Linked DNA regions of Homo sapiens. The protein of the gene in region 4 binds, or shares a complex with, the protein of the main gene of each other region. Each region holds a gene or a part of one and is shown on either strand. Other genes may lie near its edges. The genes, in order: MTA1, CIRSR, DNTTIP1, HDAC2, CHD5, SAP130 and CHD4.

The links.
Region 1: HDAC2 (region 4) and MTA1 share a complex: the UniProt entries of both Homo sapiens proteins name them as parts of the nucleosome remodeling and deacetylase (NuRD) repressor complex.
Region 2: HDAC2 (region 4) and CIRSR share a complex: the UniProt entries of both Homo sapiens proteins name them as parts of the histone deacetylase complex.
Region 3: HDAC2 (region 4) and DNTTIP1 share a complex: the UniProt entries of both Homo sapiens proteins name them as parts of the histone deacetylase complex.
Region 5: HDAC2 (region 4) and CHD5 share a complex: the UniProt entries of both Homo sapiens proteins name them as parts of the nucleosome remodeling and deacetylase (NuRD) repressor complex.
Region 6: HDAC2 (region 4) and SAP130 share a complex: the UniProt entries of both Homo sapiens proteins name them as parts of the mSin3A corepressor complex.
Region 7: HDAC2 (region 4) and CHD4 share a complex: the UniProt entries of both Homo sapiens proteins name them as parts of the nucleosome remodeling and deacetylase (NuRD) repressor complex.

What each region holds. Positions count from the first base shown.
Region 1 is NC_000014.9:105,464,827-105,468,027, reverse strand, and holds part of MTA1 (metastasis-associated protein MTA1), read right to left. Parts: coding exon 3,165-3,201; intron 2,935-3,164; coding exon 2,845-2,934; intron 1,603-2,844; coding exon 1,450-1,602; intron 1,322-1,449; coding exon 1,286-1,321; intron 1-1,285. UniProt on the Homo sapiens protein: Transcriptional coregulator which can act as both a transcriptional corepressor and coactivator. Acts as a component of the histone deacetylase NuRD complex which participates in the remodeling of chromatin.
Region 2 is NC_000002.12:174,354,213-174,357,712, forward strand, and holds part of CIRSR (corepressor interacting with RBPJ 1), read right to left. Parts: intron 1-3,500. UniProt on the Homo sapiens protein: May modulate splice site selection during alternative splicing of pre-mRNAs. Regulates transcription and acts as corepressor for RBPJ. Recruits RBPJ to the Sin3-histone deacetylase complex (HDAC). Required for RBPJ-mediated repression of transcription.
Region 3 is NC_000020.11:45,801,954-45,805,453, reverse strand, and holds part of DNTTIP1 (deoxynucleotidyltransferase terminal-interacting protein 1), read right to left. Parts: intron 3,456-3,500; coding exon 3,397-3,455; intron 2,122-3,396; coding exon 2,076-2,121; intron 309-2,075; coding exon 250-308; intron 149-249; coding exon 88-148; intron 1-87. UniProt on the Homo sapiens protein: Increases DNTT terminal deoxynucleotidyltransferase activity (in vitro). Also acts as a transcriptional regulator, binding to the consensus sequence 5'-GNTGCATG-3' following an AT-tract.
Region 4 is NC_000006.12:113,940,149-113,943,648, forward strand, and holds part of HDAC2 (histone deacetylase 2), read right to left. Parts: intron 3,359-3,500; coding exon 3,203-3,358; intron 1,618-3,202; coding exon 1,560-1,617; intron 941-1,559; coding exon 910-940; 3' UTR 1-909. UniProt on the Homo sapiens protein: Histone deacetylase that catalyzes the deacetylation of lysine residues on the N-terminal part of the core histones (H2A, H2B, H3 and H4).
Region 5 is NC_000001.11:6,124,822-6,128,321, forward strand, and holds part of CHD5 (chromodomain-helicase-DNA-binding protein 5), read right to left. Parts: intron 3,398-3,500; coding exon 3,225-3,397; intron 1,926-3,224; coding exon 1,751-1,925; intron 1,038-1,750; coding exon 945-1,037; intron 792-944; coding exon 703-791; intron 413-702; coding exon 279-412; intron 1-278. UniProt on the Homo sapiens protein: ATP-dependent chromatin-remodeling factor that binds DNA through histones and regulates gene transcription. May specifically recognize and bind trimethylated 'Lys-27' (H3K27me3) and non-methylated 'Lys-4' of histone H3.
Region 6 is NC_000002.12:127,944,560-127,948,059, forward strand, and holds part of SAP130 (histone deacetylase complex subunit SAP130), read right to left. Parts: intron 1,001-3,500; coding exon 897-1,000; intron 1-896. UniProt on the Homo sapiens protein: Acts as a transcriptional repressor. May function in the assembly and/or enzymatic activity of the mSin3A corepressor complex or in mediating interactions between the complex and other regulatory complexes.
Region 7 is NC_000012.12:6,590,380-6,593,879, reverse strand, and holds part of CHD4 (chromodomain-helicase-DNA-binding protein 4), read left to right. Parts: intron 1-263; coding exon 264-464; intron 465-651; coding exon 652-789; intron 790-1,062; coding exon 1,063-1,184; intron 1,185-1,313; coding exon 1,314-1,487; intron 1,488-1,822; coding exon 1,823-1,964; intron 1,965-2,054; coding exon 2,055-2,186; intron 2,187-2,296; coding exon 2,297-2,414; intron 2,415-3,500. UniProt on the Homo sapiens protein: ATP-dependent chromatin-remodeling factor that binds and distorts nucleosomal DNA. Acts as a component of the histone deacetylase NuRD complex which participates in the remodeling of chromatin.

The DNA.
Region 1 (3,201 bases), on a different chromosome or scaffold from region 4:
GGCTGACCCCTCTGAGCCCAGGGCCCCGCCCAGCCAGGCGGCAAGGGGTGATGCTCCCTCACAAGCACTGCATGGCTGGGACTCACGTGTGAGGTGTGGAAAATTCAGTGGGAACAAATAAGCTTTTATGTAACTTGCTGGTTAACCGCTTTTTACAAAACAAAACAAAAAGCTCGAAGATGCCTGCTGACAAGGACTCCCTCCTGTTTCTACCAGCTCTTATGGGGCTGTTCCTGGGACGCCCTGCCATTAGGAACAGACAAGTAAAGCCAGCCCAGAGTGGGCTGGCCCTGGGCCCAGGACTAGGCAATGGGGGCAGCCCCAATACCAGATGGCTGGGAGGGTGCCCCAGGAAAGGAGGGCTGGGGCTGGGGCCGAGACACAGACACCGCCAAGGGATGTCGGGAGGAAGCTGCAAGGACAGGCCAGGGGTGCGTGTCCAGACAGGTGGAGATGGGGGGCCCGGCACCCGATCTCAGGCCCACCCTGCGCTGCAGCCGGCGTGCTGACCCCACAGGACGTGCCTGCCAGGACACCCAGCAGCCTCGAGAGAATGCCCCAAGGGGACAGGGTTGGCTGGGCTGGGCAGCCACTACCCATATCCACCTCCAGGTCGCCAAACCGGCCCTGCTGCCCTGGCCAGCACCGTCAGTGAAAGCCGCCTGGCGAAGGGGCTCCAGGCACATCCACACTGGCAGGCCCAGCACTTGCACACCCGGGCCCCACACACCTGGCCTCCTCATGCTAGGCTTGGTCCTATCTGCTCTTCCCCAAGGGGCCTGGGGTCCCGCAGCCCCTGCTCCAAGCAACCGGCACAGAGCACCTGAGCCAGTCCTCCGACAGAAGGCACCCATGTGTACAAGCTCAGTTGCCCACGGCCCACACAGACACCCCCGACCACCCTCCCCACTGTCCCGCCTGGCAGGCGCACGGAAGGATTGCAGGCACAGCACGGGCGGCCCCACGAGCTGAGGCTGGCAGCATGCGGGCAGTCACAGCGCGATGGCAGACAGCGCAGGCAGGGGCGCCAGGGCCACACGTGCCAGGACAGTCCACTGACAGGAGGCGGGGCCAGGGGGCCGAGGGCCAGATGCCTGGGCTCGGGGGGTCTTCACCAAGGGACCAGTGATGTCGGGAGGAATGTGGGGAACTGGGCTGTGGCCTGGCTCACGTGGACTGCCCCAAGCATGGGCCCTGGGCCGCCCGCCGCGGGGACACAGAGCAGCACAGCACAGGCATCACGGGCGGGGCCGGCGCAGCGCCCGCCCGCGGCTCCAGGCCTTACCCCTACTGGGCATCAAGAGGCGCTTCTTCATGTTGCCTGGCAGCGCCGGGGTGGGAGAGAGGGAGAGAAGACAGCGTCAGCACGCACGGCGGGTGCCCGGGCGGGGACGGGCCGGACTCACCGGGCGGGGAGGGCCACACTCACCGGGCGGGGGGGCCACTCACCGTCCACCCCGTTGTGCTGCTCGTAGCTGCGCTTGCCCAGGATGGTGGGGGAGCCGTTGTTGATGACGGGGGCCACCTTGGCGGGCGTCAGGCTGCTGAGCACGCTGGACACGCTTTTCACGGGGTCAGGCTTGGGGGGGCGGGGGTGGGTCTCTGCCGGGAATGACACAGGCAGAACGAGTTGCCTCTGCCCAGCAGGGGAGGGGCAGGCAGGCCCAGGCTCCAGCCCTCATGGTTCCGGGATACCCCCAGGAACTAAGCCCCATGCGGCCCCCACCCGAGGCCCCATCCTGACTGGGCTGGAAGTGGGGAGGTCACCACAGAACCAGAAGCCCAGAAGCCCTCGGCAAGGCGTGTGCCCGGGCCAGTCCCGCACCCCAGGGCTTCCAGAGAGCAGGGAGACCACCTGGCGGGGGCCAGGCCCCTCAGCCCCGGGACAACAGGATCCATACACAGGCCCGTGAGCACAGCACGCCTATTAAACAGCCCCCACGTCCAGGCCCCCGGAGCTGCTGGTGGAGGGCTGGCTGCTCGTCAGACAGCGAACCAACCATCCAGCCAGCCTGGCCAGGGACACAGCTGCTGAGGACCAGCCCTGACACCAGCCACCTCTTCCCACAGGACAGGGGCCACAACCCCAAACAGGGAGCAATGCCAAAGCCACTTGAATCTCAGAGCACACTTGGCTCATGACTCTGGAATGTCCTTCTCAGGACAGTCACCCTGTGTCGGGAGGGCAGATGCACAAGCCCACTCGAGCCCAGCAAATGGAGGAGGCCCCCCACCGCCACCACAAATGTCTGGCCCAGCCACCAAGCTGCTTCCAGCTGGGCCAGGGTAGCCGGCTGAGGTTCTCGGGTGTCCTCAGATGCTCAAAGGCAAAGGAACCCCCTGCCGCCTGAGGCTGCTCCTCCCCCTGCCGAGGGCGTGCAGAGGCCTGAGTGCTGCCCCTGTGGAGTGGGCGTGGCTCAGGAAGTATACTCCCTGCAGGCAGCAGGTACGACGCTGCCTTAATGGTATTACAGGCAGGGGTGTGCACCACCTAAACCCCAGACCCTCAGGCCCCAGGGACGATCAGAACACAGGGAACAGGGTAGCGAGACTGGCAGGGAAGCCCCCGGGTGTGCCTTGAGGAGGCTGGCCCCGCAGAAGACAGGGCGGCCGCTACTCCGCACTGGGCCCCATCACGACCCCAGGAGCAGGGAGCAGCCTGGGTCCCAGTGGGTCTGCCTGAGCCTGGCACGGTGCAGAGTACCCCAAAAGGACAGTTCCAGGCCCTGGGGGGCTGTCCAGGAGCTCCCAGCTAGAGAAGGCTGGGAGCACCAGTGCATGAGCTTGGGTGAGAAGCTGCCTGCAGGCAGCATTGGGAGCCCCCCAGCACGCCTGGCTGCTCACCAAGATACCGAAGCACGGCTTCCAGCGGCTTGCGTACCGCCTGCTTCAGCACCAGCGGGCTCTGGGAGGCTTCGGGCAGCCGCGCCGTGCCTGCGGGGTACCACACGGTGTGAGGGGTGGGGCACCCCCAGGGGAGCACGGGACCCTGCCTGCGCCTTGACCTGGGAGCCCTCACTGGGCTCGGCCATGTCAGCACCGAGGAGGACGTGGGGCTCCCTGAGATCAGAACTCCCAGTGGGGCTACAGGCTGGGCCCCAAGGTTGCTGCTCTCTCCCCACCACCCGCAGGAACAGAGTAAGCGGGGCGTTGGGGTGACTCACACTCGGCCTTGATGGCCGCGCTGTTGATGGGCAGGTA
Region 2 (3,500 bases), on a different chromosome or scaffold from region 4:
TTTAGCACACTTTCACAATGTATGACTGTAAATAGAGTGCTTAGTGAAGTGCTCGACAAATAGTACTTAATAAAGAGTAACAACTATTATTTTTACCAGTACCTATTCAACTTTCTTATATAAGAAATTGTCTTTTTATAAGATATATTATATATGTACATATATTACTTATATATGTACATATATATTTTATATATTATATATAATATATATTATATGATATATATAATATATTATATAATATAATATATAAAATATATATAATATATATTATATTATATAAATTATATTATATATATCATATAATATATTTTATATATTATATAATATATATTATATTATATATATTTTATATATTATATTATATATTATATATATCATATAATATATATTATATTATATATTTTATATATTATATAATATATATTATATATTTTTATATATTATATAATATATATTATATATTTTATATATTATATAATACATATATTATATATAATATAATATATATTATATAATATATATTTTACATATGTATATATATTATATATATATATATTTTTTTTTTTGGTAGAGACAGGGTTTTGCCATGTTGCCCAGGCTGGTCTTGAATGCCTCAGCTCAAATAATACACCTGCCTAGGTCTCCCAAAGTACTGGGATTACAGTTGTAAGCCACTGCACCCGGCCACTATCCAAATTCCATGACTATCTTACGGTACTTTTCATAATACAAAAAAATGCTCTTAGTAGTAATACTTTTCACAATGCAGTCTTATTCACATTTTTTTTATACTTAAACCTTCTCCTATCAACCAAAGTTCTGAGTTTAAAGTTCTAGGTTTAGGAGATGAAACAAGTCAGGTTTAATCAAGATATATTTAGCAAGTATCTTTCTACTTTCACATTATTATGACAGAGGCTACGTAGAGTTACACTGACAGAAATGACTCCAGATCTTTTGAGAACTCAAAATTTGGTTGATAAAATAGATGATTACAGATACGTTGATAAAATAGATTACACAAATATGTTCAAATGTAAAATAACTACTTTTATGTATGGTGCCTTAATAATTTCAATTATAGCTGGAGTTGGATCTTAAAAATTGTTTGGCTTATTCTTAAATTTGTCATGGTAGAATAATACTAGAGAATTCAGAAAGAAGGCATTTGTTCTAAAATGCAGATTTGTGAGGGCTCCTTTCTAGATCATCTCAGCCAAGCCTTCACAGCATTGAAAACCAATGTTCCCACTTAGAAAAGCAGGTCCACTGAAGAAACTGCTTTCAACATTCATTTATTTTACAAACTTTTCTTTGCTGTGATATGGATAAGTATCAAAATACCAATTGTGTACAGTTCCATGTTCTGATTAGACCCAGGCTCTACTAGAAAAATACCATGAAATCGAGTCTCAGGAAAGAAAAAATTCCTAGAAGGTAAATTATGCTATACAAAATTATGTGTGTAAAGCGCTTAATCTACTCACTAAGAGTATTCATTTTTACAGAACAAAAACAATGAAAGGTAAAAAAAGAATGTCCTGTTGTAAAATAGGTATTTTATCAAAGAATAATATATAAACTCAAAAGTTCTGGCTATGAGGAAATGGCATACAACTGACTCCACAATTATAGTATGGCAGTCCCAGGGGAATGCCACAAATGGCATAGGAGGGAGACTAAAGCTGAAGTCAAAGACACTTGTGTTTCACTGCAAACACTAGGTCCATCTGCTCCATTCGAAGTTCATCATTCTTTTCTTTAGCCAGGATGGTCTTGATCTCCTGACCTCGTGATCCACCCACCTCGGCCTCCCAAAGTGCTGGGATTACAGGTGTGAGCCACCACACCTGGCCCATCATTCTTTTCAAACAATGCATTATCACCTACAATTTTATGGTATTAAGTAGGAGAAAAGGGGGCAGTGAGTTGTAGGTTAGGTAAGGCTGAATTAGAAATGCCTTTCCTGGCCAGGCGCAGTGGCTCATGCCTGTAGTCCCGGCACTTTGGGAGGCAGAGGCGGGTGGATCGCCTGAGTCCAGGAGTTCAAGACCAGCTTGGGCAACATGGTGAGACCCTGTCTCTACAAAAAATACAAAAATTAGCTGGCCGTGGTGGCGCACATGCCTATACTCCCAGCTACTAGAGAGGGTGAGGTGGGAGGATCACTTGAACACAGGAGGTTGAGGGTGCAGTGAGCCTGTGATCTCACCACTGCACTCCGGCCTCAGCAACAGAGTGAGATCCTGTCAAAAGACAGACAGAAAAAAAGACAGACGGGAAGGAAGAAGGGAAGGAAGAAAGAAAGAAAGAAGAAAGGAAGGAAGGAAGGAAGGAAAGGAAGAAAGAAAGGAGAAAGAAAGGAAAGAAAGAAAGAGGGAGGGAGGGAAGAAGGAAGGAAGGAAGAAGGGGAAGGGGAAGGAAAGAGGACAGACTGACTGACTGGCCTGTCTCTCCTTCTCCCAAATTTAATATATTATGTACTTAATTTATAGGATGCCACTGTTGGCTGAAACTAAATTGCTACCCTAAAGTGAATATAGTTTTGCTTCCTATTACAGTGATGATCTATTTTTTTTCCCTTCTCATTGTGTGTGTGTTTTAATTTAACTTTATACTACGGAAAATTGCAAACCTACATCACATAGCTTCAACAATTAACAATATTTTGTCATTCTTGTCTTAGCTATTACTTCCAAATTTATTTTTTTCATAGAATATTTTAAATAAAATCTCAACCTCAATACCTTTATTATGCTTCTCAACATTGATAATTTTAAAATGTCATCGAATAGTCAACATTCAGATTTCTCAAACTGTCTCAAAAGTATCTTTTTACAGTTGGTTTGCTCAGATTAGGATACAAACAAGGTCCACATATTGTATTTGATTTATAGATCTCTTTTAATCTAAAACATTTACCTATCTTCCCCTCCCTATTGTTATTCATTTGTTAAAGAAATTGGGTAATTTGTCCTGTAGATTTCCCACATTCTGGACAGTGATGCCATTTAACATGTTTCTCTAGCTCTTATATTTCCTATAAATTGGTAGTTAAGTCTAGAGGCTTATTATTAAATTATTTTGATATTTTATACCACATACTTTGGGGGAATATATGGCAAGTTTTGTAAAGTTTGGATTTAGGAAAATGACACCTGAAAATACACTTCTGGTTAATTAAAACATGTTTCTAGCTAAAGAAAAAGGAGGCCAAGACTACTTGTATGTTCTTGTAATCACTTTCCCATGTATTTATTGCAGTCAAACTAACAGTAATATAACCATAAAAGTTGTTTTAAAATAAACCCCAACATTATCACAAATGAAAGAAAGTACAATCTTCTGTCCCTTTTTCTTTCCTAAAGTTAAATTGGCTATATCTAGCGAATAAGCCAGTCCCTGTCACTAAATGTAAAAAGGACAGTTAGACACTAGTTAGAGTATGTGATCAGGAGGGAGATATGTGTCTAATGGGACTTATCAAGAATTATCTT
Region 3 (3,500 bases), on a different chromosome or scaffold from region 4:
GTGTTTGTTCTAAGCTTCTCTGTGCTGAGTGGAGTTCCCAGTCTACTCCCAATGCAATGGCCTGCTTTCCTCCCAGCAGTCACCTACCTTAAAGAGGTGTGGGTGCTTGATGTAGATTCTTCCTCTGGTGCCCCCCATCCCCAGGGCTCTGAAAAGTAAAAGCCAAGTGGTCAAGATTCCAGAAAGTGTAGTCCTACTAGTGAACTCCTGAGCTGTTTCCTCAATCAGTGCCAAAGCTCTTAAACTTACTTGTTGGCTCGAGATCCCAACACAAAGGTGGTAGATTCATTCAGGCGAGCTGGGTCCCACTGTGCAAAAAATAGAGAAGCTCGTGAGGGTGAAGTTTAATCTGATGGGTAGGACAGAAACACTCCTCCCCCTACCCTTTTCTAACCCTTCCCCTTGTCTATTATTTAATCAACAGTTGACCCAAGACACTGAGTACTCACAATATGCTAGGCCCTGTCTGTGCTAGATACTGGGGATAAAGAGATGAATAAGATACAGTCTCTGTTTTCTAGGATGCCACCAACATATGTACAGATAATTACACCATTGTGCGATGAGGCAAGGACACAAGTGAGTGCAGGGTCTGAGGGCTGCCGAGGGGAGGGTCCAGCCAGGAAGGCTTCCTTAGAGAGGCATTTCCCAAGTTAATTCTGAAAGGGTGAGCACAAGTTGGGGTAAAGGGGGTCAGGAACAAGGGCATTCCAGACAGGGGGCAGCATGAGCAAAGACAGGTGAGAGGCAGCTTGGCCTGCTGGAGAAACTACTAGTAATTCTGTGCTGCTAACAGAGAGAGTACAAATTAGGGAGTGGCAGCTGATGGGGCTGGAGAGAGAAACACAGAGGAGTTGGAGGTCTTAGGAGGTTATGTTCAGGGGACTGCATTTTATTTCTTCTGTAGGCAATGGGGAATCGCTGAAGGCCTCTAAACAGGGAGTGAGAGTCAGATTTCCTTTAAAGATAGCTTAGTCTTCTAGCAATGTGGATAATGGATTTGAAGGGGCAAGACTACAGGCAGGGAGAGCAGTTTAGAGGCCGCTGTGATAAAGCAGTTGGAAAGCTGCTAAGGGCCTGAGCTAGGGCAGCAGTAAGGATGAACAGAAGGAAATAGGAACTGCAATATATTTAAGAGGAAGAATTGTCCAGGACTCGACTGGGTGTAGGGAGGTAAGGAAGAGGAGGAGGAGGCAAAGATGATTAAGATAACGAATGTAAAGAAGGGCTGTGAGGAAAGATTCTAATTTCATGTTTGGATATGCTGAGTCTGAAATGCCTATGAAACTTCCAGCAGAGTGGTCAAGCAGATAGTAGGATAAACAAGTTTTAAAGTAGAAAGAGGCATGGGATGGACAAAGAGGTATGGGAGTTTTAGAACATGGTGGTCCCTGAAACCATAAGAGTATATGTTTTAGATTATCCAGAGAGTTACTTTAGATGGAGAAGTGGGCCAAGGAGAGAATTCTGGGGAACAACCATTTATATAAGTCACTGCTGAGGAAGAACTCAGGAGAGAGAGGGAGGCAACAGAGGCTAATGGTTGAGAGCACAGACTCTGGTGTCAGCGGGTCTTGGGTTTGAGACTCAGCTCGATCACTTACGAGTTATGTGACTTTGGGCAAGTCTTAAGTGCATTAAGTGTATAAGACAACTGAATAAAATAATTTATGCCCACAGGGAAGCTGGCAGAAAAGGAAACGCCTCATTTATAGAATGGTTCACAGAATTGATCTCATAAGTTTGTTATAAAGATTAAATGAGATGGTCTACACAAAAGATTTAGGACACTGCCCGTTACATACTAAGTATTGAATCAGTATTAGTGACCACTAACTCCTATAAGGAGAAGGCTTCAGCAAAGACTCAAGCCCTCTCTTTGTTTTGCCTCTAACTCCAATTCCTACACAGGATCCTCTCTGAGGCCAGTGTGGCTGGAGGTGGAGAGGGGCAGATGGCTCTGGAATGGTGTGCATGCACCCTTCGCCCCCTGCCCCTTTCCCTCATGGTGGGTCCTAGAGATAGTGGGACTATCTCCTGGGATCGTGATCTCTGCCATGCTCACATAATCATACCTTGGGGCCTTCCCGGCGAATTGGTTCACAGGATTTTGGTTTCCATCTGCTTGGAAGGAAAGAATAAAGGTGAATTCTCCAAGGTGAGACCTAGGACTAAATGCCAGCTTGCTGGTGGTGGTAGGAGTTCCTCACACACTCTCACTTTAGCCCTGGACATCCTCCTTCGTGGTGACACATAAGAGGAGGAACAAAGGGAAAAAAAGCACTGGACTAGAAGCCATTCTAGCACTAGCTCTGCTCTTACATAGTGGCATGAGCAACTCCAAGAACCTCTGAGTGGCAGTTTTCTCATCTGTCAAAAGAGACAAAAACAGCAACTGCCCTACCTATCTTGTGTTTGTGAGGAATAAAACTGCTTCGTGTAGGAGACACATCTAAGGTATGACAGTTAATACTAGCCCATCTACTAAGCCAGCTGTTCCAAACTAACCCCACGCCCCTGAACCAGACCAGTGTGGCTTTATTTGATTTAAATACTGGGCTCCCATGTAAAGTTTTGTTTGAAAAAGATTCTGCTGCTTCAGAATTTTTTTTAAAAAGTGGGGTTGGGGGTTGGTTGAGGGGGAAGGAAGGATGAACAGGCAGAACACAGAGGATTTTTAGGGCACTGAAAGCACTCAGTGTGATACTAGAATGGTGGATGCCTGTCACTATGCATTTGTCTAAGTTCATGTACAATACCAAGAGTGAACCCTCATGGAAACTATGCACTCTGAGGATCAAGACGAGTCAAAGTAGGCTCATCAAATGTAACAAATGTACCACTCTGGTGCCTGATGTCGATAATGGGGGAGGCTGTGCATGTGTAGGGTCAGGGAGTATACGGGATATGTCTGTACCTTCCTCTCAATTTTGCTGTGAACCTAAAACTGCTCTAAAAAAATTAAGTCTTAAAAAAATATATATTTGAAAATGACCGTCTTGGAGGCAATGTTAACGATATGACATTAGGCAAGTAATTCTCTGAGTCTGTTATCTGAAAAATTAATGATATCTTCTTTACAGGGTGGCTATAAAGATTAAAAGGTAAAGTATGTAACGTATTTAGACCAGTCATAAGCATCCAATATATACTAACAATGACAAACCTCTGGAGTTTAATCTTTCATCAAGCTGGGCCAAACCGTTCAGGGGGTAAAACAATTTCCTCCTCACTACCCTCCTTCCTCACCCCTCCAACCAGGATAACCCCCCTCCACGATGACTTAAGCTGATGGATCTGATTTTGACAGGCACAGAACCCTGGACTCTTTTCCTTCAGGGCCCCTCTCTCCGTCTGCTCCCCTATGCTCTCACCACACTGTTGGTCCCTACTCACACCATGCCGGCGGCTGCCCGGTCGCTTGACAGGATGTGTCCAGGAGGCCGTCCTTTCCTCTGCCACAAAAAACAGCTGTCAGAGGTCTGACCCTGTGGTTACTC
Region 4 (3,500 bases):
ACTCCTACAGTCTTAAAATGGGCAGACACACAATAAGTAGTTGCTGAATGATAAATCAGTTGTGTTTATTTCCTTGAGTTAGAAACCTGGATGTCACGTAAATAATAATGGAACCTGGATGCCATGTAAATGCAGTAAAAGAAACAGGTTTTGTCTGCAGGTTCCATTTTAAACCAGCAATATACTATAGGCAAGTCTGGTCAATACAAGTTCTGGTCAGTTTCTTCTTTCAATTCAGAATTTCCATTTCAATTTTGAGAATCTTTGGGTCAACTCAAAGAACTCCTACATCTCAATTGCAGAGTCTGTATTATTTCATAAATTGTAATGGGATGTTAATCTTCACTGATACTAACTGGCTAAGCTATAGAGGGCAAGGTGGTAGAATTTCTATTGCAAAGATAAGTAATAATTACTATAAATACTCTTCCCAAAGAAACAGCAAATAGTTATCTTTCAAGCTGTAATCATTATCTTTCACCTAGAGTGTATTGTAAGTCTACAGAAATGATGTCATTAGCCACTGAAACAAGACTTCATATTGTAGTAATAAACAGACAAAAGATAATCCAAGTACAATTTTTTAATAAAGATAATTACAAAAGATGGAAAAATCAGCTCAGAAAGGCCAATTACTTCTTTAATAGATCAGTTTTTTTGACATAATAACTCACATCAATTTTAAATACTATCACATAAAGCATGGTGGAGAAAAGAAATTTTGCTTCATAATTAGAAAAACTCACAATAAAACTTGCCAAGAAAAACAAAAACGAAAAAGCCATTTGAAAATAAATACAGTCCATGCCAAAGTAGTATAAAATGAAGCCAGAAGTCTTCAAAAAGAAAACATTTTCCTTTCAATATTTTCTTTTTAATGATTTTCTGAAATTGGTGAGACTGTCAAATTCAGGGGTTGCTGAGCTGTTCTGATTTGGTTCTGTTAAAAGAGGCAATGTGAAATATTAAAAATGGCACAATCTTGGTTTAAATGCACTGACCTATTATATTGATCAGGTCCTGTAGGCTCATGCTAAGAAACACATTAATTGATAATGTCTTAAGTGTTTCTGGAGTAATTAATGCCTTAATTTTTCTAGTGATTTAATAAACTATTCCAAGTTATCCTGTAAAGGCTGGCACAAAATTATGTGTGCCCAAACATTTACATGCTTTCTGACACTAAAATCCTCAACTGTTTTTACTTAAAATTGTTTCTTAAATTTACCTATCTCACAACACTAAAAAAATCATGTACACAGAAATAAGAACACCATGAAAACCATTAAGTGCATATATAAAAGATAACAGCAAAAAAGGGTCTCAGATAAACTACGTACAAGAATACAAACTGACTGATATAGTTATACTGATAAACCAATAGGTAAGATGGCATATGTTGTCTTATGTACCAATACAAACTAAAATTCAGAGCACCTCATAATGATGTTCTAAGGTTCAGTCTAGTATTTCTGAAGTGTGTACACAAACACACACCAATAAACATGTTTAGTATTTTTATAGTATGTAAAAAGTACTTGATAAGGAACATCATTTACCCTTTGGTATCTGTTTTTTCACCACTGTTGTCCTTGGATTTATCTTCTTCCTTAACGTCTAAAAATAAAGATTGGGAAAAGATTAAAACCTATTTTGAAATATAAAATGTATATATATTATTTCAAAATATACTTTATTTTTAAAATATAAAAAGTTATGCAATCTTATTATTAATGAATTCGGTCTAAATAAGCTTTGTGTTGGGTGTTTCCTAAACGATGGCAGTACAAGCTATGAATAGTCACTGGATTGGGGTGCAGAGGGAGAAAAGGTGGCCCTAACTCTAGGTTTTGACCTATAGATTTAAAAAAAGCTTTCTGTGGTAGTATTTCATTTTTCAGTAGGCTGAAGAATTTTAACAACTGCAAGGCCCTATCGAAAGAGCCTCATCACCAAATAGAGAGTTTATTTTTTAAGCACAGAAAAGATAAAGCTTTTAAAAATGAGAACACCAAAAACAGACAGACAAGAAAACATAGTGAAAATGAAAGAAAAGAAAAAAAGTTAGGAAAATCCTACAGCTAAAGTTAAGTCGTCCTTAATTCAGTCATGGCTTGAATTTTTGGATGTCAATCAGTTACAAATATAGACTGAAGCCATCATTGTAATACATTGGGAAGTTAAAATTATAAATTTCTGTATGTAGCCTATTGAGGAGTGAATCCACAAGTAAAAGAACAGAACTAAATGTGTCAGATGTTATAGATTACTAACTCTCTAGTTTAAAAAAAAAAAAAAAAGCTGGCTTATTCACATAACTTCAATTTGATAGACATAGGAAAAATTGGATCATTATCTCTAAATCAGTTTTTCACATACTACAGGATCAAAATTAACAGGTTAACTAAAACGTGTGCTCATCACCATTACTTGCATTAGGAAATGCATCAAGTGCTGAGAATACAAATATTTAAGATACTGTGTTCCCTAGCCATGAGCAGCTCAGTCTAGTAGGGAGACAAAATCCTGTGAGGTGCTATAATATGATGTGTTAAATAAAATGGCAGAGGCATGTGTAAGTGTTCTGGGAAGTCAGATGAAAGGTAACAGATTCCGGTAGCAAATTCAATTGCCTAAAGCTAACACAGCGTTTTAAAGTAAGGCAATGTATCAAAGTATTTTTTCCTCCCTAACCCAGGTCCCAAATCCCCTCCTAGCTTTCCTCAGAGTTTTTAATGTTTTCTTCAATTTCTGAACAAAATCCATTATTTGACCTTTTTCAAAATGGCAAAACTGGTCTAAGGATATGTAACTCTTCTTTGTGTTTTCTCCCATTAAATAAGCTTTAGGTAGCTAAAAATTACCTTAGAAGTTCAGTTCTGACCATGCACTACCAATAGATTCATAATTACTTTGTCCTCTTTCTTAACCAATCTATATCACAATGCAATGTTCACTATTTTAAACCTATGTTATCAAGAAAATAAGGTTTCCTGTATTACTAAAGCAAATAGGAACAATAACATTTATATAAAAGCTTTAAGAGCTAAGTACCACTTATATGTAAGAAAAAAGAGTCACCTACCTAGCATACTTCCTCCTGATACCTGTGCAACTGACTTCTCGATAGCATAAACATTATAATGCAGCCCAATTTTTAAAATTTACAATTAAAACACAATTACCAAGAAACAAATCTGACCTGTTTTTTTGTCCTCTGTTTCTTTCTTATCTTCTTCAATTCTAGCTTTCTTTGCTCCTTTCTTATGATCAGCCACATTTCTTCGACCTCCTTCTCCTTCATCCTCAGAATCTGAGAATTCTTCATCACAAGCTATCCGCTTGTCTGATGCTCGAACTGCACAGAATATTTTAATAAATTTTGACAAAAACAGTCACAGGTTTTATAATCATTACAGCATACTCATACAAATGCACTAAGCAGTTAGTTACCACATTTAAACGTAAAGGGTAACATGCCTAATGATTTTAAAATTTGA
Region 5 (3,500 bases), on a different chromosome or scaffold from region 4:
CCCTGGCGAGGGGACCTCCTAGGACAGCCCTGGGTGACCGGGATCTTCCTCGCTGCCATAACACCAGCTGGTTTGGGCAGGGGCGGATGGTCAGTGTTTGCAAATCAGCCCTGCCCGGCACCAGGACTCTAGCCACCCAAAGTCCAAGTGGCAGTGAACTTTCCAGACGGCCTCATCCTGGCGGAAGCAAATGCTGCCCTCTGTGGGGCTCACCCGCAGGACCCTGCCCTACTCAGGGGCAGGTGGTCACACCCTGGGCCACCACCTAGCCCCTTTACCTAAACTCCTTCTCGCTCTTCCCTCGAAGGTCCCGCACCAGCCAGTGGGAGTTGAAGGCGTCCTGCGGGGGCATGCCCCAGCGCATGATGGCGTTCAGAAAGGCCTTCCGCTGTCGGGCATTGAAGCCCAGCACCTGGGCGAGTGGAGCGTGGGAGTATGAGCCCAGGACAGAGAGGGGTGGGGGTGGAGGATTCTGGGATGGGGGAAGAAAAGCATGGGAGGAGGAGAAGGTAGGAAGGGGGCACAGAGAAGGCAGGGGCCTCCACCTGGGGCAGGACCCTGACGGCGAAGACCAGACCAAGTTCTGTCCAAGCTCCGCCTCTACCTGGCATGAGACCCGGGGCAGTCCCCCAGCCCTCCTCCATACCCCAGGGGCAGCAGGAAGCAGGGGCAGAAAGAGATGCGGGAACAGACAGGCCCCACCTCGATGTTGCCACCAACTCGGGCGAGAAGCGGGGGCAGGGGCTTGTCCCTGTCACTCTTCAGCTGCCTCCGGGATTGTCGTCGTCCACCTGGGGAGCAGCCCGCCACAGTTCCTCAGGTGGGAGCCCAGAGATTCCTGATCCCCAAGGACAGCGGGACCCCAGACCAGCCCCGCTCCTGCTGCCATCAGCTCCCCTGACATGGCCTCAGCAGTAGCCCAGACCACTAACACTGAGACTCACTCTGCCCTTCCGGCCTCTCTTCAAAGTCCTCATCCTCATCCTCAGAGCCAATGGAATATTCTGACTGGTTATCAGAGAGCTCATCCTGCCACTCTGCAGGGGGCCAGACAGAGGGGCACGGAGTGAGCTGTACAAGCAAAGCCCACCCTCAAGTTCAAGCATGCCCAGGGCCACGCCGAGCCCCTGCACCCCAGCTCCATAAAAAAGCAGTGACAATGGCCCACATACTTCCTGTGGGCTCATTTAGTAATCCCAACACCACCACGTTATACACTAAGGGTACCATGTGTACCCACACATTACACATACTGTGTGCAAGGGACGTGCCCAAGGCCACGTCACGAGCAGTGGTGAAGTCACTGAACTGAGCCACACCTTGTTCCCCCAAACACCCAGCACCTCTGCACCTGCCCCCAGTCCCCTTTCCTCCAAAAAGCTGCCTCCCAGCTCCAACCAGCGCCGCCCAGCGTTCCTGGCCCCCACCTCCCGGGGGGGTCCTGCACAGGGATGCCCCAACAGAATCCTGCCCCACCCTCCACCTCTGGGTATGGGACACCCATCCCTCCTGGCACACTCGCCCAGCTCTCCCGGCCCGCACCTCCCGGGGGTTCTGCACAGGGATGCCCTGACAGAATCCTGCCCCACCCTCCGCCTCTGGGTATGGGACACCCATCCCTCCTGGCACACTCGCCCAGCTCTCCCGGCCCGCACCTCCCGGGGGTTCTGCACAGGGATGCCCTGACAGAATCCTGCCCCACCCTCCGCCTCTGGGTGAGGGGCACCAGTCCCTCCCTCCCGGCACGCACCCTGGTCCTCCTGGGAGGCATCGTTGTAGTTGACCTGCTTGCGGATGCGCTTGCCCTTGCCCAGGTTGCGGGCCAGGTCCTCCTGCTGCTGCTCATAGTGGTGCCGCAGCAGCTTCTCCCAGTAGTCGGGGTCCACGTTCTCCTCCTGCTTGATGATTTCCCGCTCCACCTCCTCCTGGGGACGCAGCACCACGGGTTCCATGGGTGGAGCCATCTCTGCCCTCCCGGAAGCCTCAGGCTGCCTCCACCTGACCTGCCCTTTGCCCCCTCAGGGCTCAAGGATTAATGGGATGGCCTGCCTACTCCAGGAAGCCTTCTCTGATCACCCCGGCCCTAGCTAGCTTTTCTCTCCCTGCCCCTATCCAGTCAATCATTTACTTATTCATCCATCCATTCACAAAGCAAGTATTTCCTCGCCTCCTGTCAAGCACTGAGGTACTGAGTTGAATAAGCTCCCCCTTGCCTGCCCTCAGGAGGCTCCTGGTTTCAAAGGAAAAGGTCATGGGCTCACCAGGTCTGCACGGAGGGTGGGGAGCAGAGGAGGAAACGGAAAGGCCTCCAGGAGAGACCCACAAGGAGCTCTTCGGGGACAGCTGGGGTTTGCCCGGTAGAGAAGGGAGAAAAGTGTGGGGTGGACCAGGCGTGGTGGCTCATTCCTTAACCCCAGAACTTTGGGAGGCCGAAGCAGGTAGATCACCTGAGGTCAGGAGTTCAAAACCAGCCTGGCCAACATGGCAAAGTCCCATCTCTACTAAAAATACAAAGATTAGACAGGCGTGGTGGTGCATGCCAGTAATCCCAGCTACTTGGGAGCTGAGGCACGAGAATCACTTAAACCTGGGAGGCGTTGGTTGCAGTGAGCTGATACTGCGCCACTGCACTCCAGCCGGGGCGACAGAGCGAGACTCCATTTCAAGAAAAAAAAAAAAAGAAAATTGTGGGCCGTCCTGGAACGTTGGCGGTCCAGGTGCAGGGCCGAGATGCAGGCCCTGAGGAAGGGGCGGGAGGGTGCAGCTGGGTAGGGACTGAAACCAGACCCCGGGGACAGGGCTCTGTGCAACGGGGTGGCAGATCAGCTTGCACTTCAGAGAGTGGGGAAGCTGGACTGGAGCCGGGATGACGCCACGGAGCAGGCGGCTGATGTGTGCAAGGGCAGTGGCCGGCCCATGTGGCTGTACTGCCCTCAGCGCTGCCTCCGTCCCTTCCCTCACTGTTGTGTCTCTAGTCCTGAGCCCGCGGGTGGAGCGACAGGGCCGCCCTGCAGAGGCCGGAGCACGTGGTTGGAGGGCGGAGCACACGCTGGAGTGCGGGGCACAGCAGGGAGGGCGGGGCTGCGGCTGGAGGGCGGGGTCACAGCTTGGAGGGCTGGCTGCGGCGGGAGGGCGGGGTCACAGTGGAAGGCGTGGACACAGTGGGGGGCGGGGCTGCGGATGGAGGGCGGGGCTGCGGATGGAGGGCGGGCCGGGGACCTTACCACGCCGTCCTCCTCGCGCACCACGTACTGCGCCACCTTGAAGGAGCTCAGGTACTCGTTCATGTTCTGTAGCTCCGTGTCATCTGTAGCGTCCTGGTTCCGGTCCAGCAGCTTGGAGATGGCCGCATCGTCATAGTGGATCACACTGCTGTCCTCCACGTCCTTGTTGTCACCTGGGGAGCAGGCAAATGCAGTGTGAGGACAAAGACTGCCCTGGTCCAGCCCCGGGGTCCCAGGAACAGACTCCCAACAATGGCCCTTCCCATCCCCAGCAGG
Region 6 (3,500 bases), on a different chromosome or scaffold from region 4:
GCTGGCATTACAGGCGCCTGCCACCACGCCCAGCTTATTTTTGTATTTTTAGTAGAGACAGGGGTTTCACCATGTTGGCCATGGTCTCGAACTCCTGACCTCGTGATCTGTCCACCTCGGCCTCCCAAAGTGCTGGGATTACAGATGTGAGCCACCGTGCCTGGCCTCTACAAAAAATTTTAAAAAATCAGCTGTGTGCAGTGGCTCACACCTGCAGTCCCAGCTGTTTGGGGGTGCTGAGGTGAGAGGATTAACTTAAGCCCAGCAGGTTGATCATGGCTGTAGTAAGCCATGGTCGTGCCACTGCACTCCAACCTGGGTAACAGAGCAAGACCTTGTCTCAAAAAAAAAAAAAAAAAAAAAAAGAACAGGAGAGAGGGAGAGGTATGCCCCGGTCTCTGAATGATGATGTGTGTGACTGGCTTATCTGAGTAACATTGGAAATTGGAATACTGGAAGCTGGCAGGGAACTGGAGCCTACTACTCAGCAAGGAGCAGGAATTGTGTGCCTGGTCCCTGTGGTATGAAGGGTTGTTTGCCTAGGAGACTTCATCTGAGGGAGCAGAGTTGGGAGGAGGGACTCTCGGTTAGGCCGTTTGAGGCTCCCCCTATTTCAGATGTCACAATATCACATAACACTGAATCTTAAATTTAGGTCTTACACCACAGTTGTTCCATATATTTTGGATCTGGATACCAGAACTTAGATATATTTCAATTTTAATCACATGTAACTGACACAGTGTGATATTACATAGCACACATAAAAATTCTATCATAACCCATGTTAGCTGGGAATGCTTCAGAGTTACTTTTAAAAAGTTCTATGAACTCAGCTATCTGCAGTGTCTTCTCCTCTCTTCAGCATGATGAACAACTGCTAGAACTCCACCTACCAGCTGTAGTAACTGGGCAGCACAGAGGTGGACTTTCCAGCCTTGAGCACGACAGGATACTCCTTTCTGATTAGCTATTTCCTGCAGCATAGCTTTCTTCTCCTCTGGAACCATAAAAAATAAAAATACATGTATTTCAGTGTTTAAAAAGGTAAATGATTTGTGTTCGAGCAGTGTAAATGCCATTATTTTAACAAGAATTTTATTTTTTTTTTGAGACAGTGTCTGGCTCTGTCACCCAGGCTGAAGTGCAGTGGTACAATCTCAGGTCACTGCAACCCCTGCCTCCTAGGCTCAAATGATTCTCCCACTTCGGCCTCCCAAGTAGCTGGGACTACAGGTGTGCGCCATCATGCTGGGCTCACTTTTGTATTTTTTGTAGAGATGAGGTCTTGCTATGTTGCCCAGGTTGGTCTTGAACTCCTGGGCTCAAGCAATTTGCCTGCCATGGCCTCCCAAAGTGTTGGGATTATAGGCATGAGCTGCCGTACCTGGCCATAAGAACTTTTTTATTTGAGGTAATGGTTTCATCTAGGAGAGGCAAGCCAAGAGGACACCAGGCTGCTTACTCCCCTCCTTTACCTCCACTAAGTGCTACCTCCTAAAGCAGGGCTGTCACTCAGAGAGAAGCTTGCCACGTGTCAAGCCAGGGCCTCCCCCATCTCTAAGGCCCTGGTTCAAACATTTTGCCGGAAGAAGTGGGCTGTAAAACAGATACCTTCTAATTTCTTCCTGAAGGAAGTGAGTCCATTTGCAAGAGTGTGAAGAAGTTCAAACCTAAAGGTGCTCCCCATAACAGTGGAGGCTGTGGCAAAGGGAATTGGGGGAGATTTGTGAACTAATGAAGATATAGCCTAGACTATGTGCAGGCTGGTTTGAAGGAAAGAACAAAGCATAAGACAGCTGGGGGAGCCTTTCCAAGGGCAGAACAACTTTATCAAATCAAGGAAGAACCCTTCTTTTTCTGTTTTTGAACACTGTTTATCATGAAAAGGTGTTTAATTTTGTCAAATTTTCTATATTGATTGATACAATCATGTGATTTTTCTTCTTTAGCTTTTGTTGTGGGTTGAATGGTTTTCCCCCCAAAGACATGTTGAAGATCCTTGGTACCTGTGACTATAACTATATTAGAATGTAATGTAGTCTGACCGCAGTGGCTCACACCTGTAATCCCAGCACTTTGGGAGGCCGAGGCAGGTGGATCACTTGAGGTCAGGAGTTCGAGACCAGCCTGGCCAACATGGTGAAACCCTGTCTCTACTAAAAATACAAAAAATTAGCGGGGTGTGGTGGTGGGCGCCTATAATCCCAGCTACTCAGGAGGCTGAGGCAGGAGAATTGCTTGAACCCAGGAGGCGGAGGTTGCAGTGAGCTAAGATCGCACCATTGTACTGCAGCCTGGGGGACAGAGCGAGACTCCGTCACAAGAAAAAACAAACAAAAAAGGTAATTTGGTTAAGAAGTCATACTAGATTAAGGTGAGCTGTAAATCCAATGACTGGTGTCCATACAAGGAGGGAGGGAGACAGAGAAGTAGAGAGAGAGAGAGAAAAGGAAGGGGAGAGAAGGAGAGAGAGAGAGAAAGGAGGATGGGAGAGGCAGAGAGACACAGAGAAGAATGCCATTTGAAGATGGAGGCAGGGACTGGAGTGGTGCAGGTGCAAGCCAGGAACACCAAAGATCGCTGGCAATCACAAGAAACCAAAGAGACAAGGAAGGATTCTCCTCTACTGCTTTCACAGAGAACATGATCCTATCAGACCTTTATTCTGGACTTCTAGCCCCCAGAACCATGAGAATAATTTGTACTGTTTTATGCCACCCAGTTCACAGTACTTTGTTATGGCAACCCTAGGAAATTAATAAGGCCAGTTAATATGGTGGATTACTTTGGTTTTCAAATGTTGAACCAGCTTTGCACAGCAAGAAAAAATTCTACTTGGTCAAGGTATATACTGCTGGATCTGATTTGCTAATATTTTATTAATGCATTTTTACATCTATATTCATGAGGAATATTGATCTGTCATTTTCTATATTTGTACACTCTGTCTGGTGTTGATAGCATGAAAATATTGGCTTCATAAAATAAATTTGGAATGTCCTTGCCTATATTTTAAAAGACACTGCAGAGAAATGGATCATTACCTGGTCAGCCGATTATCTTATCAGTATGTAATATCCCTCTGTGTCTCTAGCAATTTTCTTTCCTCAGAATTTTACTCTATGTGACATTAATATAGCCACTCCTGCTTTTCTGTAAATTAATTTCATATTGTGTGAATTAATTTTGTATTGTGTGTGTCTGTGTGTGTGTGTGTGTGTGTGTGTGTGTGTGTGTGTTTTGAGACGGAGTCTCACTCTGTCACCTAGGCTGAAGAGCAGTAGCATGATCTCGGCTTACTGCAAACCTCCACTTCCCGGGGATTCATGCAATTCTCCTGCCTCAGCCTCCTGAATAGTTGAAATTACAGGTGTGTACCACCATGCCTGGCTAATTTTTATATTTTCAGTAGGGACGAGGTTTCACCATGTTGGCCAAGCTGGTCTTGAACTCCTGACCTCAGGTGATCCAGCCATCTTGGCCTCCCAAAGTGCTGG
Region 7 (3,500 bases), on a different chromosome or scaffold from region 4:
TGGGCAACAAGAGTGAAACTCCGTCTCAGAAAAAAAGTATATAAAGACTTAATGGGAGAGGTAAGACTTGTAGTTATGGTGGGACCTTGGGTTTTTGGAAAGGAGTGGGCTGGGCACTTGTATAGAGGAAGGTGAGAGCAGGAGCAGCAGCGCAGGTGTGTCAGTCCTTGGCTCAGCTTGAGGGGGCAGCAGGGTGGTGGGTGTTCGCTGGGGTTGCAGTGTGCTGGGGCCCTCAGTCCTGACTCTCCTCTTTTTTCTCAAAGGGTCATTCCAAAGGCCCCTTCCTAGTGAGCGCCCCTCTTTCTACCATCATCAACTGGGAGCGGGAGTTTGAAATGTGGGCTCCAGACATGTATGTCGTAACCTATGTGGGTGACAAGGACAGCCGTGCCATCATCCGAGAGAATGAGTTCTCCTTTGAAGACAATGCCATTCGTGGTGGCAAGAAGGCCTCCCGCATGAAGGTATCTCAGGGGAGGGAAGCCACCCTAGAGAAAGAGTTGTGGCTTCTGGCTTAGTTTACCTCCTTGTGATCTGGTCCCTGGTGAGGCAAAAGGGTAACCCTGGGAGGAGGAAAACATTCCATCAGTCTCCTGGTTGTGCTTACACAGAGGAACTGACTAGTAGTGACCAAGTTGCCTTCATGTGCAGAAAGAGGCATCTGTGAAATTCCATGTGCTGCTGACATCCTATGAATTGATCACCATTGACATGGCTATTTTGGGCTCTATTGATTGGGCCTGCCTCATCGTGGATGAAGCCCATCGGCTGAAGAACAATCAGTCTAAGGTGAGGGCTGAGGGAGGGATGTTGGAGCCCCCACTTTGGGTTTTTTCTAGTACTACCAATTCATTAAGGGGAAAACTTGTAGATGGAGAGGAGAGGGGAAAATTGTCTCTGCCTTCCTTCCTTGTATGTGACAGCCCTTGGTGGCCAGGCCTTTAAAAAGAATGTGAGGAGTGGGATGCTTAACTATTGGGCAGTGAAAAACTTGAAATTTTGTAGAGATTTGCTAGAGCTCTGTTTTCATTGGATTTCACCTTTCTCCATCTGCTTCACCAGTTCTTCCGGGTATTGAATGGTTACTCACTCCAGCACAAGCTGTTGCTGACTGGGACACCATTACAAAACAATCTGGAAGAGTTGTTTCATCTGCTCAACTTTCTCACCCCCGAGAGGTTCCAGTAAGTATGTGTTTATCTGTAATCGGCTCATAATTGTGCCTCTCATTCTTCCTGTTGCCCATTTCCTGTATCACTTTTCTTTCTTCCTTTCTCCTTCTCCAATAACTTTTTTCCTTTTTCTTTCTGAAGCAATTTGGAAGGTTTTTTGGAGGAGTTTGCTGACATTGCCAAGGAGGACCAGATAAAAAAACTGCATGACATGCTGGGGCCGCACATGTTGCGGCGGCTCAAAGCCGATGTGTTCAAGAACATGCCCTCCAAGACAGAACTAATTGTGCGTGTGGAGCTGAGCCCTATGCAGAAGTGAGTTGGGAGGGACAGAAGCAGACTCCATTTAGACATCTGCCAGTCTGCAGAGTGTTTCCTATTCCTCCCCCACTCAGCTTCAAGGCATCTGGTGACAGGAGCAAGCAAGGCCTGAAGAAACCTGATGCTAGGGCGCTGGAGCGCATAGTTCTTACTTATTTTAGGTTATACCTTTCCTTATTTAAAATGGTGGTGGTGGTAGTGCTTGTGCGTTAGGTGTCCTTAGTTCCAAAGTGGGATGTGTTGGAAGAAAGATCTCAGTTGTTGGCACTGCATTATTAGTCATTGAAAGGCTCTCAAGTCTAACCTGTCTTTCTACCTTGCCCATGTAGGAAATACTACAAGTACATCCTCACTCGAAATTTTGAAGCACTCAATGCCCGAGGTGGTGGCAACCAGGTGTCTCTGCTGAATGTGGTGATGGATCTTAAGAAGTGCTGCAACCATCCATACCTCTTCCCTGTGGCTGCAATGGTATGTAGTGCCATCTCCTGTTCCTCCCTGGGTTGGGTCTTCTCCATGTGGGCTTTCTTTTAATACTTTTTTCTTTGCATTTGTTCTCAGGAAGCTCCTAAGATGCCTAATGGCATGTATGATGGCAGTGCCCTAATCAGAGCATCTGGGAAATTATTGCTGCTGCAGAAAATGCTCAAGAACCTTAAGGAGGGTGGGCATCGTGTACTCATCTTTTCCCAGGTATCATGTGGACTGGGAGCTTTAGGGAACAGTCATAGACAACCCTTAGTGACCTAAGGAAAGGGATTACCATCTGACTCTTCCATAATTAAACCGTGCTTCTTTTGCAGATGACCAAGATGCTAGACCTGCTAGAGGATTTCTTGGAACATGAAGGTTATAAATACGAACGCATCGATGGTGGAATCACTGGGAACATGCGGCAAGAGGCCATTGACCGCTTCAATGGTGAGAGAGAAGGAGTTGTTTAGTTTCAGGAATCCTCATTTGCTTATATCTTTGGACTGTAACTTCTTGTGCATCTCCTTTTCTGTGTAGTTCTTTTGGGACTTTGTCATTTGAGATGGAGTAAAGCTTTTGAATGTCTCAATTGGACGAATGTATTGGACTATTCCTAGGAGATTTTTTCTTTTGGGGTATTTGTTCTTTCTGCTAGAAAGAAGAAAGCATTGTATCTCGAGGGCAAGCAAAGGGTCAGGACTTGTTCAAGCTCAAATAGCAAGTTACTAGCAGACTTGTCTGCCTCAGTAGACGCTACTAGGTTTTTTTTTTTTTTTTTTTTTTTTTTTTTGAGATGGAGTCTTGCTCTGTCGCCCAGGCTGGAGTGCAGCGGCACGATCTTGGCTCACTGCAACCTCCGCCTCCCGGGTTCAAGCAGTTCTCCTGCCTCAGCCTCCCAAGTAGCTGGGACAACAGGCGTGTGCCACCACGCCCAGCTAATTTTTGTATTTTTAGTAGAGATGTGGTTTCACCATGTTGGCCAAGATGGTCTCGATCTCCTGACCTCATGATCCGCCCACCTCGGCCTCCCAAAGTGCTGGGATTACAGGCACGAGCCACCACGCCCAGCCTGTTTTGTTTTGTTTATTCGAGATAGGGTCTCACTCTGTTGCCGAGGCTGGAGAGCAGTGGCACAATCATGGCTTACTACAGCCTGGACACACCCCCAGGCTCAAGTGATCCTGCTGCTTCAGCCTCCCAACTAGCTGGGGCTGTAGGCTTGATCCACTGTACCTAGCTAACTAAAAAAATTTTTTTGTAGAGATGGGGTCTTGCCATGTTGCCCAGGCTGATCACAAAGTTCTGGGCTCAAGCAATCCTCCTGCCTTGGCCTCCCAAAGTATTGAGATTATAGGCATAAGCCACTGTGCTCAGTATCACTACTCCTTGTTTAAAAAAAAAAAACTTTTTATTTTAATTTTAGACTTAGAAAAAAGTTGCAAAACAGCAGAGAGAGTTCATGTATACTGTTCAACTAGCTAGCTTCTCTTAATAATAACTTACGTAACTGCAGTACAATGATCAAAACTAGAA